Regions from separate parts of the Homo sapiens genome. Here region 2 is linked to region 1. Evidence: fine-mapped expression QTL. Tissue or cell type: whole blood. Region 1 holds a variant in brackets; the other region holds the start of a gene. All regions are shown on one strand. Distances are between the middles of the regions.

Region 1 (9,851 bases):
AATCAAAGAGGTGGACTGTACATTCATCCCCAAACAAATGCAGAGACGTGGGATTTGTGTCCATTCTGGGGATTCAGAGACTGCCTGAAGCCCATCCTCAAATCCCTAGGTCAGTATTTAGAGCAGTGGGGTGCTGGCTTGGAGCTCTGGAAAACAGTCTGGCAGGTCCTCAAAGGTTAAACATGGAGTATTGACAACCCAGCAACTCCACTCCTAGGGATATGCCCAAGAGAAATAAAAACCTGTGTGTGAATTTCACAGCAGCATTGCTCACCCGTAAAGCAGAAACAACCCAAACATCTGTCAACTCATAATTGGAGAAATAAAATGTGGCCCATGCAATGGAGTTTTTTTGTTTGTTTGTTTTTTGAGATGGAGTCTCGCTCTGCCGCCCAGGCTGGAGTGCAGTGGTGCAATCCTGGCTCACTGCAACCACAATGGAGTATTTTTTAGCCATAAAAAGGAACCAAGTACTGATAGATGCTACAACACAAATGAATCTAAAAAACATGATGCTAAGTGAGCCCGGGCGCCGTAGCTCACACCTGTAATCCCAGCACTGTGGGAGGCCGAGGCAGGCGGATCACTTGAGGTCAGGAGTTCAAGACCAGCCTGGCCAACATGGTGAAACCCCATCTCTACTAAAAATACAAAAATTACCCGGGTGTGGTGGCGCACATCTGTAATCCCAGCTACTTGGGAACCTCAGACACAAGAGTTGCTTGAATCCGGGAGGTGGAGGTTGCAGTGAGCCAAGATCTCACCATTGCACTACAGCCTGGTAGACTGTAGTCTCAAAAAACTTTTGAGTTTTGAGACTCCGTCTCAAAATACAAACAAAAAAAACCCATTATGCTAAGTGAAAGAAGCCAATTACAAATGACCACATATTACATAATTCCATTTACATGAATTATCTGGAATAGGTAAATACACCGCGGTAGAAAGCAGATTGGTGGTTGTCAGGGGGTTGGGGAGAGGGGAATGTGGTGTGCCAGCTGAGGGTACAGCTTTCTTTTGGGAGTGATGAATATGTTCTAATATTGACTGCAGTGCTGGATGCAGAACTCTGTACATACAACAAATGTCACTGAATTGCACATTTTAATGGCTAAGTTGTATTATGTAAATTACATTTCAGTAAAGCTGTTAAAAAAAAAAAAAAAAAAAGCCAGCCAGGTGTGATGGCATGCGCCTGTAGTCCCAGCTAGCAACCAATGCAGGAGGCTGAGGCAAGAGGATTGTTTAAGCCCAGGAGTTCAAGGTTACAGTGAGCTATGATGGTGCCACTACACTGCAGCCTGGGTGATACAGTGAGACTCCAATCTCTTAAAAAAAAAAAAAAAAAGGCAAAAAAAGCTTGGCTGGGGAGAGGGGAGGGTGAATTTCACAGGAGGACACCCTGTAGCTGGCACAGGTAATGCTGAGTCCTAGAGGCTGCAGGTTTGCAGGCAGGGGCGTCAGCCACTCCCTCACCTGCCTGCCCTCCTCCCCTGCCTTTCACAGAAGGCCATCCTGGGTTCTCTCAATCTGCTTCCTGCTCACCTTTTCCTTCTGCTCCATGGGCCTCCACGGGCAGTGTCTTGGGAAGGACCCAGCACACAGGCTGGTGATCCTAGGGAAAAAGGTGTCAGGCCCAGGTAGGGAAGGCAGAGGGTATCAGCCCACTGAAAATGAGGACGTCCGGGTGGGAAGTGATGACGGGACAGTCATTGGGAGTGGGATTCAACACTAGGACAGACAGATGCTGGAGAGGAGGAGGCAAAACAGATGCAAGGGACTCTACGCCGTTTGGGTTGGAAGATTCTGTGAACGCCTTGTGGCCCCTGTGCTGCCCTGCCTTACGCATTGGAGGGGTGGGGATGGAGGCATGGAGAGGCACAGCAGGACCTGGCCGATTCCCGGGTCCCTCTGTGTCCCCGGCATGGCCTCCTGTCCCTCCCACCCAGGCCTTTCAGCTGGGCTCACTCATGGCCTCTGGCCAAACTCAGTAGCTGTGTCAGGGCAGACTCATGTTTTAGATTCCCAGAAACCCAGTTCAAAAGAAGGAGGTAGACTCGGGACAGCTGGCCCAGAGAGATGGGATGTTATTTGGCCATGGAAAAAAAAATAAGATTATTTTTTGGCCATAAAAAGGAACAAGGTTTTTTGTTTTGTTTTTTTGAGACAGAGTTTCACTCTGTTGCCCAGGCTGGAGCGCGGTGGCACAATCTCGGCTCAATCTCCATGGGCCTGCTCCATAGTGGATCTCGGCTGCAATCTCCGCCTCCCGGGTTCAAGTGATTCTCCTGCCTCAGCCTCCCGAGTAGCTGGGATTACAGACATGTGCTACCACGCCCAGCTAACTTCTGTATTTTTAGTAGAGGTGCGGTTTCACCAGTTGGCCAGGCTGGTCTCAAACTCCTGACCTCAGGTAATCCACCCACCTCAGCCTCCCAAAGTGCTGGGATTACAGGTGTGAGCCATTGCACCTGTCCAGGAACGAGATTCTCATCCATGCCACAGCACGGATATACCTGGAAGACATGATGCTCAGTGGAAGAAGCCAGACACAAATGGTGTACGATGCCATTTATAGGAAACATCCAGAAAAGACAAATGCAGGGAGACAAAGTGGAGAGATGTGGTTTCCAGGGGCTGGGGACGGGGTGATGGCTAACGGGTGCAGAGCTTCTTTCTGAGGTGCTCTAAAGTGGACTGTACATTTTCAATGGGCGAATTTTATAATATGTGCATTACAGCTCCATAAAGCTGTTAAAATTTTCTAATAAGTCTTTAAAAAAACAAAAAAGAACTGCTGTGCTACTGCACTATGACTCCATTTATGTAAAGAACAGAAAGTGACAACACGAACCTCTGCAGTCAGGGTGGTGAACCGCCCCAGAGTTGGGGGTGATTGAGAGGGAATATGGGGGCCTTTTGGGAGCCGGGAACATTCTGTTGCATGTTCCGTCTGTCAAAGTCCCTCTGTGTGTGACACATGCTTTTCTGTATGCAGGTCACACCCTCACTGCTCGGAGACAGCTCGATGCCTTGCCCTTTTTCCTCATTAGTGGGAGGCGACCACAGGAGGGGACAGAATAGAGAGACCAGAGCCCTGAATGAGTCAGGGTTACCAGGGAGATGATCTACGAAATCACGATCGGATGACAATGACAGCTACAGCTCACAACCGTGCAAGCAACTTGGCCGGAGCCACCTCGCTTCCCAGAGACCCCACAAGGGCTCCTATTATCCACGACGCTTCAGGCTCAGCACAGACAGGTTCGGCAACCTGCCCCAGCTCACCCAGTGGGGGCATGGAAGAGTCAGCTTGGAAGCCAGGTAGCGTACAGCCATGCTCTTACCAGATACCCTGCTGCCCGACTCTCCCTGGCCATCCGAATAGAATCCATTTTCCAAGGCCCAGATCCCTGAGAAAGGGACCACGTGGAGCTCCAGAGGGAATCTGGGAGAACAGAGAAGCCGCTGGCTGCTATGCTGCTAGCCAAACCCTCTCTGGCTTTCACTGGCTGTTGCTAATCCTTCCTGAGTCTGTTTTCTCGTCTGTGAGGAGGGCACACTGATACTGACAGAGGGTGAAGGGCACAGCCTCTGGAATCACACTTGGGCTCTACCCTACTCTGCTACCTGGGTCAAACGGCGTTGCCTCACCCAGCCTCTGTCTACTCCTTTGCAAACAGGAACCTCACAGGGTTGCCGTACAGTTTAGAGGAGATAAAGTCTGCAACATGCTCAGCACGGTGTCTGGTGAACTGGGAGTGCACCACAGATGGCACCTTGCAGGATGGGGACCCTGTGATGTCCACAGCACCCCGTCCTCAGTGCCTTGCACTGCTGGGCTTGGCAAGGTGGTCAATAAATGGTTTGCTGAGCGAATAATGAAGCGAATAATGAAGATGGCTGCACGCAGGGCTTCCCTCTTTGTCTGGCCCATCCTGAGGCACTGCCCTTCCCCAGGTGCCTTCCCCAGGGCCCAGGTGTCCAGACCCTGGAAGGAGAGCAGACCCCAATGTCCCAGGAGAGAGGGAGGAGAGGTGGGGGAGAAACCACCTAGAAGAGCCTGACCCATGTGCCTGGAGAAGAAATTAACTCAACACAAGAGGCCTGTCCCCAACCAGCAGCAACAAGACATGCTTGACCTGCTAGGAATTGAGCTGGGGACACAGTGTCCCCAGGTGCTGGCTTCACAACCCCCAGTGGGTGTGTAAATGGCTCTGAAGCCCGCTGCCTCTGCTCTCTCTCTCTCTCTCCATAGGCACCTGCTACATCCACACCTGACTCTCACCTCCCCCTCACCACTGGTGCCTGACTCTTGGAGCCTCAGTTTCCTCATCTGTGAGATGGGTGCAGACCTAATCCTTCCCATATCAAAGGGGATGGTTCAGGGTCAAACACAAGGTGGGGAGAGGGGTGCTGGCCCAGGCTCTGCCCCTTACCAGGCACATGGTCTTGAGTAATCACAGCATGTCTTCAAGCCGTGATTTCTCATATGTAAAATGGGGATCATAGGAATATCCAGGTAACATGATGGGGCTAATGAGATGATCAAATGAGATAAATCCACATAAGATGCTGAGTAGGCTGCCTGACACAGGATGAGCTCTTAATTTTAAAATAATAACAGTAATAACGGCAGCAGCAGTAACAGTAATCGCTGCAGCAGTATTAATAGTAGTAATAATAATAATGTAACAGCAGCTAACCTACGTACCCTCAAAA[T/A]GGAAGGAACTATTCTAAGAGCTTTACATTATTACATAGGGTTCACAACAACCCTATAAAGTAGGTACTTATGCCCATTTTATTTTCTTAATTTTTTTTTTTTGAGACGGAGTCTCACTCTGCCGCCCAGGCTGGAGCACAGTGGCGTGATCTCTGCTCACTGCAACCTCCACCTCCTGGGTTCAAGTGATTCTTGTACCTCAGCCACCCGAGTAGCTGGGATTACAGGTACCTGCCACCATGCCCAGCTAATTTTTGTATTTTTAGTAGAGATGGGGTTTCACCATGTTGGCCAGGCTGGTCTCGAACTCGTGACCTCAGGTGATCTGCCCTCCTCAGCCTCCCAAAGTGCTGGGATTACAGGTGTGAGCCACTGCACCCGGCCTGTGCCCATTTTAAAGATGAGGAAACTGAGGCAGAGAGATGAAGCCACTTCTCATTGTTAAGAATGATACTGGCGGACCCAGGCAGTGGCATGGTGGTTGGTGCCTGGCCTTCAGGGACTTTCCCTAAAACCTGCCAATGTCCCTTTTCAACAAGGAGAGCACCGGCCTTGAGTCCAGCGCTTAGGACAGGCTAACCTTTTCATTTCATCAGTTTCATGCTCCATCAATACTCGTGTCAGTTTTGTTTTCCTTCCTCCCTAGGTCCCCGCCGGGCTGGATGAACCGGCTTTTCTAAAGGTGTCGCAGCCCAGGCTGCAGCCATGGGAACAGGCTCTGCCTCACCTCAGAGCCCAGGGCTGACGGCAGGTCACTGCCCTCAGCCAGAGCTGATTCTCATGGCCAGTGGTGTTGCCCCAGTGACCATCAGGGGTAGCGGGGATTGCCCAGGAGGGCTCCAGGGCCACACACCTTCCAGGCCTCCTGCGGGAGAGCTTGAGCCCTCGGGGCTTCAGAATGTCCCCCTGGAGTCATGAAGGGCTCGCGTGACATCAAGCTGTGCTAAGCACTGCAACACTTAATCACCCCCACATAATCATGAGTGGCAACAATGATGATCCTATTTTACAGACCAGAACACAAGGCCCAGAGAGGCAAAGAGACTAAGCCCCAGTCACACAGCTAGAGTTGGCGCGGGACTCCAGCTCTGCCTCCAGGCTGGCTCGAACCATCTTGCGCTTCCTCACTCTCACCACTTCCTTCCTTCCAGTTGCGCATTTTTACGTTAAAGAGAGAAAGAGCGAGGCATCTGCTCTCACCCAGCCCCCAGCCCTCAGCCCAAGAGGCCCCATCTGGGACCCAGGAAGAGGGCAGGACAAGCGTCAGGCCAACAAGAAGGGAAGGACCAGGCTCAAAAAACCACCGAGGACTGTGCTGGGCTCTTCCTCAAGCCTCGTGGTGTGGGTTGGTTTCCGGTGGCTTTCGGAGCCCAGCTCAGTTGCAAAGTTCTCTCTAGGGGTACTGAGCATGGAGCTCCCCAACCCCCACCAACCACCACAAGGCTAACCGACCTCCAAGGTGAGGGTGCAGCCAGGCCCCAGATTCTCAGGCCGGAACTTCCACCGCTCCAGGGCTCCCTGCACTGAGGGAGGCCACTTTGCCGGGCTGCCTGCCCAATGTCCCTCTGAGTTCCCCTTCCTGCACTGCCTGCCCAGTGCCCCTCTGATTCCCCTTCCTGCACTCACTGTTCAGCATGTGGTGTCCCCCACAGTGGGGAAGCTGAGGCCCCATGGAGACTCTTCAAGGCAGAGACTGCATGTCACTCAGCACATGTCTTCCCAGTAGCCAAGATACTCAAAGTGTGGTTTCTGGGCCAGCAGCATCTGCATCACCTGGAGCTTATTAGAGATGCACCATCTCTCCCTACTCCAGACCTACTGAATCAAAACCTGCATTAATACAGTAGTGCATTCATGGCTCACTGCAGCCTTGAACTCCTGGGCTCAAGTGATCCTCCCTCCTCAGCCTCCTGAGCAGCTGGGACTACAGGTGTGTACCACCACACCCAATTTATTTTTGGTAAAGACAGGGTCTCACTATATTTCCCAAGCTAGTCCTGAACGCCTGGGCTCAAGTGATCCTCCCGCCTTGGCCTCCCAAAGTGCTGGCATTACAGAACCTGCATTTTAACGCAGTCCCCAGGGCATTCACGTACACATGAATGCGTGAGAACTGCTGGCCTCTTAATCTCTCAATGTTTCAAAGCACCTGGAATTGTGCAAATGTGCTAGGCAATTCTCCTATCCACATTTTTGCACAGAAGATTCTGGCAAGAAAGGCCTGGTCCTTTTTGCTCCTGGCAAATGCCTCTTTGAAAAGCTGGACAACGTCGCCAAGACCACTCCCCCAGGCAAACACCTTCTCATCCCTGTCCCTGCCCCATGTCAGTCCCCCACTTTCCCCAACACCTGGAATTGACTTCTTACAGTGAAAGCAACTCAGCGACAAGCATTCGAGCCCCTTCAAGGAGCCAGGCACTGTTCTAGGTGCCAGCTGCAGAGGTAAAGACAGACACGATCCCTTACGGGGAATCTAGGAGAGCACAAAAAAGATGGGAAATAGAGTATCTCAGGGAGTGATGAGTACTTTGCAGAGAAATTCAGCAGAGAAAGGGAGGGGACCACAGGAGACCGGTACAAGTTTAAATGAGGTTGACCACAGAAAGGCCACAGGGAAAAAAGTGACATTTGAGCAGAGACCTGAAGGAGGGGAGGTTCTCCACTCCCATGTGTCCAGCTGGTGGGGAGGGTGCTACCAGCATCTAGTGGGTGGAGGCCAGGGATGCTGCTCAGCACCCCACAGTGCCCAGGACAACCCCCAGTGAAGAATCATCCAGCCCCAGAGCCCAGGCTCAAAAACCCTGCTCTAGGGGAAAAGCATTCTAAGAAGAAGGAACAGCATGAGCTAGAGCCCTGGGGTGGGGAACAAAGAATGTTCATGTAACTTGGGCAAAAATAATTGGAGATGGGTGTGGCAGGGGCCCAACCGTGCAGGGGCCAGAAGGACACTGAGAGGCCTCAGCGGAGGCTCTGACTCCCAATGGGTGAGACAGAACATCTTCAGCAGAGAAGAGACAGTCTCATAGGACCCTCCCACATGGTACCGTGAGCCTGGATGGTGGATGGACAGTGAAGACAGACACAGGGGAACCAGGGAGGAGGCTGTTGGGGTAGCCCAGGCCAGAGACCATGGCAGCTGGATGAGGGCAGGGGCTGGGGGAGCAGAGGAAGAAGGGGAGAGAAGTAGCAAATCCTGGGCTCCTTGGGAGGTAGAAATGGCAGTGTTTGCTGATGAACTGGAAGCAGGGCTGAGACAAAGGGAGGAATCAAAGGTGACCACTGCAGGGAACTGTGAGGCTGCCGTTCACCACAGAGGAACGGGGGACCTCTGGGAGGGATGAGGAGGTGCTTGCTTTGAAAGGGGCATGTTAAGCGGCATGTCTTATTGGATATTAAGTGGATGGGCAGTTGCTACATGAGTCAGGAGCTCAGGGGAGAGGTCCTGGGAGGACATACAGATGTAGGAGCTGGCCGGGCACAGTGGCTCACACCTATAATTTCAGCACTTTGGGAGGCTGAGGTGAGAGGACTCCTTGAGCCCAGGAGTTCAAGACCAGCCTTGGCAACATGGCAAGACCCCATCTCTACAAAAAATACAAAAATTAGCCGGGTATGGTGGTACATGCCTGTAAGTTCTGGGAGGCTGAGGCAGGAGGATCGCTTGAGCCTGGGTGGTTGAGGCTGCAGTGAGCTGAGATCGAACCACCACACTTCAGCTTGGGCAACAGAGCAAAACAACAACAAAAAAGTAGGAGCTAACATACAGCTGGTGTTTCAGGCCACATCTGTGCATTTTATTTCAAGGACAAAAGGAAACCCAAGTCATCACTAGGGCAAAGGCAAACCCTCTGTGATCTGCACCCAACTCTCCAATTCTCCTCATGTGCTGGGCCTTCTGCCTAGAGCTCCCCTCCCTCTTCTCTTCACACACCGGCTCCTTCTCTCCTGGTCTCAGCCCAGATGTGGCCTCCTCAGTGGCACCTTCCATGACCACCTACCCCAAGGACCCTCTCCTCCCTAGGGTTCCAGGGGATGGCTGTCTGCCCTGTTTCCTTCCTTTAGCTTTTTTTTTTTTTTTTTTTTTTTTGGGGCAGGGCTTCACTCTATCGCCCAGGCTGGAGTACAGTGGTGCGATTTTGGCTCACTGCAGCCTTCACCTCCTGGGTTCAACAGATGTTCTTGCCTCAGCCTTCTGAGTAGCTGGGACTACAGGCACCCGCCACCATGAATGGCTAATTTTTTTTTTTTTTTTGAGACGGAGTCTCACTGTGTTGCCCAGGCTGGAGTGCAGTGGCGCTATCTTGGCTCACTGCAAGCTCCGCCTCCCGGGTTCACGCCATTCTCCTGCCTCAGCCTCCCGAGTAACTGGAACCACAGGCACCCACCACCACGCCTGGCTAGTTTTTTGTATTTTTAGTAGAAATTCACTGTGTTAGCCAGGATGGTCTCGATCTCCTGACCTCGTGATCCGCCCGCCTCAGCCTCCCAAAGTGCTGGGATTTCAGGCATGAGCCACCATGCCCAGCCAACCTTAGTATATTGCTCATGTTATAGCATGAACTGGCTGATGTGCTAGCTTTCTCTCTGACTACCCCTCACACACATAAGCATCAGAACAGAAGTGCCCCAGCAGGGGAAGGGGAGCCTCCCCTTCTCAACCCTGTAGGATCCTCAGCTCTAAAACCCATCACGGAAGGCCCTGGACATTTGCAGGCTTGTAAGCAAGGACCATGTCAGTATCAACCATCCTGGGAAAAGAATCTCTATAAAAGTTTTATATGCGAGTACCTGCTAATAAAACTAAGACTGTTTAGAAAGCTGCTTTTTGCCTCGGGAACGCCTCCGCACCTTTTCACACCAAACTACCCCCTTGGTGGCTCTCCTCACGTCTGCCTTAACACTCTCACCTAAGCAGATGTGCGAGTCCAGCTGCCTCACGCCCGCTGTCTTTTCTGGGCATCTTTACAGCTACCGTAGCAGGTTTTCCTCTTTAAGTGAACGTGCATCATCCTAGCTGAGGCTTTTAAAGGGAGGACTCGCTGCCTCTTGGAATATATTAAATTCTGATGGTGAAACAGCCTGCTGAGCTAGGTAGGGCCTCAGCAACTTCCTTATGAGTATAGTATTT
Region 2 (9,851 bases), 37 kb after region 1:
CTGGATGGGAGCAGCAGGTAAGCCAACCCCTGAACAATAATGAGCATTCGTTTCATAAAGAGACAGGGTTAACGCTGTGCGCGGTGGCTCACACCTGTAATCCCAGCACTTTGGGAGGCAGAGGCAGGCGGATCACTTAAGGTCAGGAGTTTCAGACCAGCCTGGCCGACATGGTGAAACCCTGTCTCTACTAAAAATACAAAAATTAGCCGAGCATGGTGGCGGGCACCTGTAATCCCAGCTACTCACGAGGCTGAGGCAGGAGAATTGCTTGAACCCAGGAGGCAGAGGTTTCAGTGAGCTGAGATCGCGCCACTGCACTCCAGCTTGGGCAACAAGAGTGAAAATTCATCTCAAAAAAAAAAAAAAAGAGAGAGAGACAAGGTTAAGAGGAAAGGTTTGAGTTTGTTTTTTCTTGTTTTTGTTTTTTGTGAGATGGAGTTCACTCTGTCGCCCAGGCTGGAGTACAGTGGCATGCTCTCAGCTCACCGCAACCTCCGCCACCCAGGTTCAAGCGATTCTCCGACCTCAGCCTCCCGAGTAGCTGGGATTACAGGCGTCTGCCACCGCGCACAGCTAATTTTTGTAGTTTTAGTAGAGACAGGGTTTCACTATCTTGGCCAGGCTGGTCTTGAACTCCTGACCTCATGATCTACCTGCCTTGGCCTCCCAAAGTGCTGGGATTATAGGCGTGAGCCACCACGCCCGGCCTAGACCTTACCCTGGGTGGAGACAGAGAAAGGCTCCCGTACGTAAACACCTGATTGTACACATCAAATGAAAACAGTGCTCCAGGCAGAGGAACAGCTTTTGTGCAAAGGCCTGAAGGTGAGAAAAAATACGGGAGTCTTTTCCTATCCCTTCTTGGTTCCTAGAAATTCAAGTGGCAGCTACACACAGTGAAAGCATGCTGGCAGTAAGAAAGCAGTCTTGGGGCCAGGCATGGTGGCTCATGCCTGTAACTCCAGCGCTTTCAAGAGGCTGAAGTGGGAGGATCACTTTGAGGCCAGGAATTTGAGACTAGTCTGATCAACATGGCAAGACCCCTGTCTCTACAGAAAAATTTAAAATTAGCTGGTGTGGTGGCGCACACCTGCAGTCATAGCTACTGGGAAGGCTGAGGTGGGAGGATCGCTGGAGCCCAGGAGTTCGAGGTTGCAGTGAGCTTGATCATGCCCCTTGCACTCCAGCCTGGGTGAGAGAGCAAGACCCTGCCTCAAAAACTAAAAATTAAAAAAAACTGTAAAAAAAGAAAGTAGGCTTGGGGATCCCATGATCTCCAACTCCTCCACTTAGCAGCTGTGGGACTGCAGGCAAGCTGGTTTACCTCTCTAAGCCTCAGTTTCCTCACCTGTAAAATGGCCCTAACACTGCCTTCCTGGGGGATCATTACTATAAAGAGTGTTATGCAGAGAGCACCAGCGTGGAGCCTGATGCTCAGCAGGTGCTTGGGGAATTATGTTCATTATCACCAGCCTCAGCCTGACCTTCTGGTCCTTTCTGGATGGTGTTCTCAGAAAGGGACCAAGCTGATTCCTCCCCAGAAAGTCAGGGGTCATCTTGGTCCTCAGGGAGGCGGGGGAGTCAGCAGCCCTGTGGGCTCAGTCTGTCCTCTGGCCACCTTACCCTGAGGCTTTTCTCCCTTTTTCTCAGGGAAGATTCCCAAGGGAATGGCCTTGGAGGAAGGGCCCTGCCTGACCCACTGGGTCTCTGGGAGCTGACGTTCCCATGCCAAGCCGATCGTCTCGCACGTAACCTTATCAAATCCACACAATGACTTCAGGATCCAGGTGGGGGTACTGAGGCTCAGAGAAGTAAGATGACTTGCCCAAGGTCATGTAGCTCAGAGAGGTGGGACCAAGACTCAACTCTCAGCTATGGCTCGGAGCGACCAGGACATACAAGAGTGTTTAAAGCATGGTCAATAACAAACCATGTACATGTGTTTGGTCTAACTACTTCATGTATATTAACTCAATCCTTCCCAACAACTTCAAGGGAGGTACTATGACTATGCCCATTTTATAGTAGATAAAACTGAGGCTCAGAGAGCATAAGTGACTTGCCCAAGGTACCTGGCAAGGCCCCTGAAGCCAGGCTCCTGCCACAGCCTGAGCCCTGACGACAGCTGTGTCCTCATCTCATGCATTCTTATTTACTGTTGCTGGCTTGTCCCTGCCACAGGGCCTCTGCATTCGACGTCCCCTCGGCCCGAGATGCCCTTTCCACTGATTTGCACACCCCTGGCTCATTCTTACTTGGATTTCTGTTCCATTATCACCTCCTCAGGGAGGACCTCCGGATCCACCCTAAAGCTCCATTCTCATGCCACCCTGCTATGCCTCGTTCACAGTTTAACACCTGTCGGGCGTTTTGTTTACTGTGTGTCCCCCTCCAGGAACAGCAGCCTCTCCGAGTCATCTCTAAATCCCCAGCCCCTGGTCTATAAATATTTGCTAAGTGGGCAAAAGTGACCGAATTACGCAGTCCCTTTCGGAGGACTGGGGGCAACTTTCCACCTACCTAAAGTTCCACCTGCCTACTCTAGTCTAACCTCAGAACCTCCTCTCCGACCCTCTCCATCTCCCTTGGGTTATGAAGTCTGAGCTCTGGGCAGCAAGAAGGGAAGCCGCTGCAGCTACATCTAGGAAGGTTACAGAGCAGGAACACAGCATCTGTCATCCCAGTGGGAGGCTGGACCCAGGAAACTGACAAGACTCCCAGCATGCTCTGCAGCCCCTCCTCCCTGTCAAACCCACAACCAGGTGGAATTCCCGAGTGCCCCGTGGGCTGCCGGAGAGCCCACCCTTCCAACGGGGATCCCAGCCACAGAGAATGCCCATCGACACCCATCCAGATTCAAAGCAGTGGGAGGCGAGGAGAGGGCACATGAGAAATAATAAAAGCAGAGGAGACCCAAGCAAGTAAGAGCTAGAGGAATCCCTCCTTTCTCTCTCATATTAGTCTTCGGATTGAAGTGCATAAAACTTTTTGAGTAAGTAAAATATCCAACATAGTTCAAAATGAACATATAAAAACGTTTACGGAGAAAAAGCTCACTCTCCCTTCATCCCTTCCACTCCCCCCGCAACCCCCACCAAGCATCCATTCGTACTTTCTGGTGGATTCTTCCAGTCTGCAAATATAGCAATTACAAATGTATACTCTTATTTTCCCCTCTTTTTACATTTTCTATTTCTTTTTACTTTGCGGCTCCAGCTCAAAGGATCCTTTTTTAAAAAACAGAAAAAAGGGTACCATATTATATATGCTGAGCCACACCTTTTACTTCTTTAGTTGGATATTTCTATATCTCTACACACACAGAGATACAGATATAGACGTATAAGTGCGTGCATACACACACCAGTTATTAATGGTTTTCTGCAATTTTCATCCAGTTCTCCTGGAAAGGGGTATTTAGATTGGGGGTCAAGAGGGGTTGCTTTTCAGCTGACACACAAACAGCTGGGCCACCCTCTCTTGGTGATCAATACTGGACGCTGGTTCTCTGCACTTGAAGCAGGTGCCAGGAGCTAGCTCTTTCCCAAAATATCTGCAGCTCCCATTTCCTGAGCGTCTACCAGGTACTAGGAGAACTCTTACAACAGAGAAGGAAAGCTGAGAATCAGAGAGGTAAAGTGACTAGCCCAAGGTCACACAGCCAGGAAGTGCAGCTGGCAGGGTTCACAGCCGGTCTGTCGCTCGCCAAAGCCGGTTTGCCCACACACCTGGCCCCCGCGGTCTCCAGTCCACACCCTGGTCCACAGCCAGAGGCAGAACTGGCCATGCCGAGTTCAGGACCCAGGGCCAAGTCCCCAGCCCGGCTGAACTCGGGCAGAGAAGCGCTTTCTCCGCCATTTCCCTGCGGGCAGCTCGGCCAGGCCTCCCAGGGCTCCCCGCCTCCGGGCCGATGCGGGGCGCGCAGCCTTTGCTGGTCCCGGGAGACTCAGCGAACTCAGGGGAGGACGCTGGGCTCCGGGCAAAGTGCTCTGCGGCCGCTGCCTCGCTAAGTCTCCCAGCCACCCGCGGGGATGAGGCTGCCTGAACCCATTTTACAGATGCGAGGACGAAAGCAGGCGCCGGGCGCCGGCTCTCCCGACTAAGGTCACCCGGCCGGGGAGCGTCGGAGACCTGTTCCCACCCAGGTCCGCCGACTTCAAAACTTTCCGCTCTCGCGCTCACGAATGCAAACGACTCTCAGGTGTGGGGCGCGCGCGCCAGCGGGGGTGCCTGAGGGACTTGCCCGCCCGGCCTGAGGCACCTGCCCTGCGCTTGGGAAGCCTGGGCCCCGCTCCCTCCCCGGTCCGCAGTCCCCCGGCCAGGGAGTTCCCGGGCCAGTCCGAAGCTGAGCGGCTGCGGCACTGAGCATCGCCGCGGAGCTCCTCGCCGCAGCCCGCGAGGTGGCCAGCGGGGACCCATTTGAAAGAGGAGGAGACTGAGGCGCAGAGAGGGCCCGCCACTGGCCCAAGGTCACACAGCGCGGCGGCGGGCCGGGGTCCCCAACAGTGGCCGTTCGGAGGTCCCGCCCCGGTCCCCGCGCCGCCCCCCGCGGGTACTCACAGCCGGTCTTGCCCTCGAGCTCCCGCACCTCCTCAGACGCGGAGTGGGCAGCGCCCATGGTGCCCGCGGCGGGGGCCCCGGGGCGCGCGTCCCTCTCAGGCCCCGCACTGGCTTCGGCTGCGCAGCGGCGGGACTGGCCTCGGGTCCGGCCTCGGGTCGGGACGCCGGCGAAGGCTCGGAGCCGCGGGTTCCGCGTGGGGCCGGAGCGGGGCCTCATATAACGGCGGAGGGCGGCGCGCCGCGGTCCTAGCGCACGCCGGTTTCGCGCACTGCGCGGCTAGGGGAGCGCCCCGCCCCGCCCCGGCCCGGAAACCGCCGGGAAGGGGACCCCGGAGCCCACCGCTCTGGAGTCCCCGTTCGTGCAGCAGTGCTCACGTACCTCGTCCCTTCCGCACACCTGCTGGATCTGGAAGGAAGCAGGTGTGAGCAAATTTGGGGGCGTGGGTAGGAGGGGTGGGACCCCTGGGAGGTGCTATGCCCACTCCCAACCCATCCCACCTTACATCCTCCAGATCTTAGGAGGGAAACTCCACTGAGATAGTCAAGGAAGTCAGCGAGCATGAAATAGCTCTATGGAGAACAACAGTAATAATAATCCTATTTGAAAATGCACCATGCGCTTTGGTTTTTTCCAGGAAAGCCCCAGCACCTTCTGAGGTGAACACACCCACGTGGCGGCCCGTGTGGGCCCTGCACAGCCCGGTGGCTGAGAGGCACCTCAAACTGCAGGAGCGGGCTGGGCGCATGGCTCACGCCTGTAATCCCAGCACTTTGGGAGGCCAAGGCGGGCGGATCACTTGAGCTCATGAGTTCGAGACCAGCCTGGCCAACATGGTGAAACCCCGTCTCTACTAAAAACACAAAAATTAGCCAGGCGCGGTGGCACATGCCTGTAATCCCAGCTACTCCGGAGGCTGAGGCAGGAGAATCACTTGCACCTGGGAGGCAGAGGTTGCAGTGAGCTGAGATCTTGCCACTGCACTCCAGCCTGGGCGACAGAGCAAGACTCTGTCTCAAAAAACAAACAAACAAAAAAACAACTGCAGAAGTGGGCCCAGGAGGCTGCATTTGGGACAAACTGCTGGAGAGAAGGCAATGCCGGTGGTCCCCATGCCCATTAGGGAAGTTCTGGGTTAAGATGGCTTGAGGGGTTGGCTCTCCATCCAGTTGGGGTGACTGGGGCCGATGCTGTTGCCTGTGTAATGTGATTCCTCCTCCTTAAAATAAGGATAAGTTAATGAGATGTCCACCAGAGGGCCTGGCGTGGACACAGCACATGGCCACAGAGGCTGGTGGGCGCTATGGAATCTTGTCCCCTGGAGAGGCACACAGCCAGGGCAGAACATCAAGGTCAAGGCTCTCCTGAAGGCTCTGCAGTGCTTAGTGACACCACCATCAATGACCGTCAGGTATCAGGTCTGTTCTGAACGTTAGTCTCGATGATAAATGTTGGGGAGGAAGGGGGACAGGGTAGGGGGCAGGAGTTTTTCGGTGCCCACAGAGGGGACTCGGGTGGACCTACCTCCATCAGTTTCACAGGCTGCTGGGAAGGGGGCTGCTGAGAACTGCTGTTCATTCCTGCAGACTACAGGCTCAAGCCAAGGGTCACAGCCCTTTCCAGGGGCAGGAGGTGACTTTCAGAGCCCGAGGTAGAGGGTGGGAGTTGGTCCTAAAACCTCCTAGAGCATCAGAATCAGCCCCTTCCTGGTTGCAAATCCAGCTTTTGGCCAGGTGCAGTGGCTCATGTCTGTAATCTCACCACTTTGGGAGGCTGAGACAGGAGGATTGAGCCCAGGAGTTTGAGACCAGCCTGGGCAACATAGCAAGACCCCAGCTCTACCAGCAATTAAAACTTTTTAAAAATGAGCTGGGCACAATGGTGTGCGTCTGAAGTCCCAGCTACTTGGGAGGATGAGGCAGAAGGATCGCTTGAGCTCAGGAGTTAGAGGCTGCAGTGAGCTCTGATTGCACCACTGCACTCCAGCCCAGGCAACAGAACGAGACCCTGTCTCTAAAATGGAAAATCCAGCTTCCTCTTCCACTGCCTGTCTGCACTCGTAGAGCTAAGGCAGCACCTGCAATCTGCATTTTAAAGCACTCTCCAGAGGGCAGTGCAAGACCTGATCAAGGTGGAAAGATGTTGGCTGTGGGTCATCAGCTGATCTGAGCCGGCAGGACAGCTGACCTAGGGACTGCATTTTGGTTTAAAGGATTCTGGAAACAGGCAGGCCTCTGGGATCAGGAAAGGATCCCCAATACCCCTGGGAGTTCTGAGCCGCTGAGCCAGCCCATTACGTACAGCTGCTGGGAGCAATTTTATTCCAACTTAAAATGTCAGTTCCTGGAATTTTATTATATTAAACTAGTCAAGGATTAAATGATGGAACTGTCTGATGTGGGGGATAGGAAGTGGCATTCTCTGGACATCAGCCCCTCCTGCTTGGCACAGTTGCTCTGGTGGGGACAAAAGCCCTGGGACAAGGAGAAGGGCACATGGCTTCACATTGTCCCTTGGTGATCTCAAGGAAGCCCCTGGTATCTAGTATGAAGGGAGTCTGTCCTACCCGATCACCTGTCTACCCTGACCCACTGACCGCTGTTAGCTACTAGACAAGCACTTGTACTTGTTCCTTTTGCCTGAAACTCTCTTGCACTCCCGCTTCCTCTTCAGACCTCAGTGGAAACTCACATCCTCAGGGAGGCCTTCTCAGAGTCCTCATCCCCTCTCCTGGGTCCACAGCCAAACAAGCCACCACCACCAGTCAGCAGGGAGCTGGGAGGCGGGAAGTCTTGCTGAGGATGACAGAGGAGGATTTATTCCTAATAGCAGGGCTTGGAGAAGTAATCAGGAGATCCTTGGAGCAGCACGAAGGCAGAAAAAACCAAGGCACAATTTATGCATTCGTTCAATCATTTATTCATTGCACATTTATTGAGCACCTACTATGTTCAGGGCTCTTGCTAGGTCCTGGAGCCACAGCCAGGAATAAGATGCCACCTTCGCTCCTGAAGAACTCCTGGTGGGGTGAGGAGACAGACACACGGGCAGTGACAAAGCAGATGGGTAAACAAGGGCTGACGTGATGGAGCCCACAGAGAGATGGAATGTTCAAACCAGAATGGGCCCCTGGAGAGACTCTGTCATCCCTAAAGCTGAGCTTCAGGAAGTCCAGGACTGTCCCCAACTGTGGTCCCGAAGGGATACAGCAAAGCCAAATTCTTGGTGGACAGATGTCTCTGTGGGGGCCCCTGCAGTGGCACCCACCATCTGCCCGGGCTCTGCCCTCCTCTGGCAATGATGTGCACACCGCAAGGCGCCCTCCACGCAAAGCCAGCTGCTGCCTGTTCCGGGACGTCATGGCTTTCATTCAAACCTACCAATGGCTCTGCAGGCGTCAACAAAGCAAGAAGCAAGAATGAGGTCTGCAGCTTTGCATGGGGTCTGGCCAGGGCTCATTGGATTTTTTGTCTAGAGCCCTGGAAGAGGGGCACCCTGCTGGGGGGCAAGCTTTATCCCCCCCAATAACACAGCATGACTTTTGGAGGACTGGGAAACACTTTAGTCACCAGGCAACTGCGTCTTTTCTCCCAGAGGACCTCCTCCTGGAGGAGCTGATTAAAAGTGGTGACCGCAATTCATATAGCTGGTCCCTGTCAAGCCGCAAAGAGCAGCTGAGCCCAGAGATGGCCAGGATGGTCTTCATTTGGCTCTCCCACCTTCCTGTCATGGAGGGCTATGAAACCATACTTGGGCAAGTTAACCTCTCTCATCCTCAGTTTCCCCATCTGCAAAGTGGCAATTACATTGTGAGGGTTAAATGCAGATTCATATATGTAAGGTGATTCATACATGTGAGGTGATTGTGAAGGTTAAATGCAGATTCATATATGTAAGGTGATTCATACATGTAAGGTGATTGTGAGGGTTAAATGCAGATTCATATATGTAAGGTGATTCATACATGTAAGGTGATTGTGAAGGTTAAATACAGATTCATATATGTAAGGTGATTCATACATGTAAGGTGATTGTGAGGGTTAAATGCAGATTCATATATGTAAGGTGATTCATACATGTAAGGTGATTGTGAGGGTTAAATGCAGATTCATATATGTAAGGTGATTCATACATGTAAGGTGATTGTGAAGGTTAAATGCAGATTCATATATGTCAGGTGATTCATACATGTAAGGTGATTGTGAGGGTTAAATGCAGATTCATATATGTAAGGTGATTCACACATGTAAGGTGATTGTGAAGGTTAAATGCAGATTCATATATGTAAGGTGATCATACATGTAAGGTGACTGTGAAGGTTAAATGCAGATTCATATATGTAACATTGTGAGGGTTAAATGCAGATTCATATATGTCAGGTGATTCATACATGTAAGGTGATTGTGAGGGTTAAATGCAGATTCATATATGTAAGGTGATTCATACATGTAAGGTGATTGTGACGGTTAAATACAGATTCATATATGTAAGGTGATTCATACATGTAAGGTGATTGTGAGGGTTAAATGCAGATTCATATATGTAAGGTGATTCATACATGTAAGGTGATTGTGAGGGTTAAATGCAGATTCATATATGTAAGGTGATTCATACATGTAAGGTGATTGTGAAGGTTAAATGCAGATTCATATATGTCAGGTGATTCATACATGTAAGGTGATTGTGAGGGTTAAATGCAGATTCATATATGTAAGGTGATTCATACATGTAAGGTGATTGTGAAGGTTAAATGCAGATTCATATATGTAAGGTGATCATACATGTAAGGTGACTGTGAAGGTTAAATGCAGATTCATATATGTAACATTGTGAGGGTTAAATGCAGATTCATATATGTAAGGTGATTCATACATGTAAGGTGATTGTGAGGGTTAAATGCAGATTCATATATGTAACATTGTAAGGGTTAAATGCAGATTCATATAGAGAAGGTGCTTAAAACTGCCTGACACCGTAAGTGCTAGCCAGTGGTGAGCTGGTAAACAAGTTCTCTGAAAAGGGCAGGAGGGGCAGAAGTCCTAATCTGTAGCAGTTGCCAATTTCTGTGTGTAAATACTCGTGCCATAGTCAATTTCAAGTTACTGATAATTTAACAATAGGCTTGCAAAATCCCTGAATTTTGTTTTTTTAGATATGGGGTCTCACTATGTTGCTCAGGCTAGCGTCGAACTCCTGGGCTCAGAGGATCCTCCTGCCTCAGCTTTCCAGGTAGCTGCAAATACAGGCATGCGCCACCATGCCCAGCTTAAAATCCCTGAATATTTAACCA

What was found. PIP is the estimated chance that this variant, and not a neighbour inherited with it, causes the effect.
Region 2: TESC starts here. The variant in region 1 is fine-mapped to the expression of TESC in whole blood (TOPMed, PIP above 0.99).

What each region holds. Positions count from the first base shown.
Region 1 is chr12:117,057,415-117,067,265 of GRCh38, forward strand. The region is part of intron 2 of TESC (tescalcin); the gene reads right to left. Among named protein-coding and RNA genes, the nearest start is that of TESC, 37 kb to the right of the region's middle. RefSeq lists enhancers at 4,999-5,775, 5,776-6,552. The variant T/A (reference allele first, on the strand shown) is at 4,723.
Region 2 is chr12:117,094,662-117,104,512 of GRCh38, forward strand. It overlaps TESC (tescalcin), which reads right to left and starts at 4,755. Exons shown (of 8, transcript NM_017899.4): 1 at 4,564-4,755. The coding sequence starts at 4,621. TESC-AS1 (TESC antisense RNA 1) reads left to right here and starts at 4,806. Exons shown (of 3, transcript NR_120464.1): 1 at 4,806-4,983; 2 at 5,792-5,979. RefSeq lists silencers at 4,151-4,250, 4,321-4,430, 4,491-5,010, 4,749-4,887, 5,754-5,971 and an enhancer at 7,887-8,386.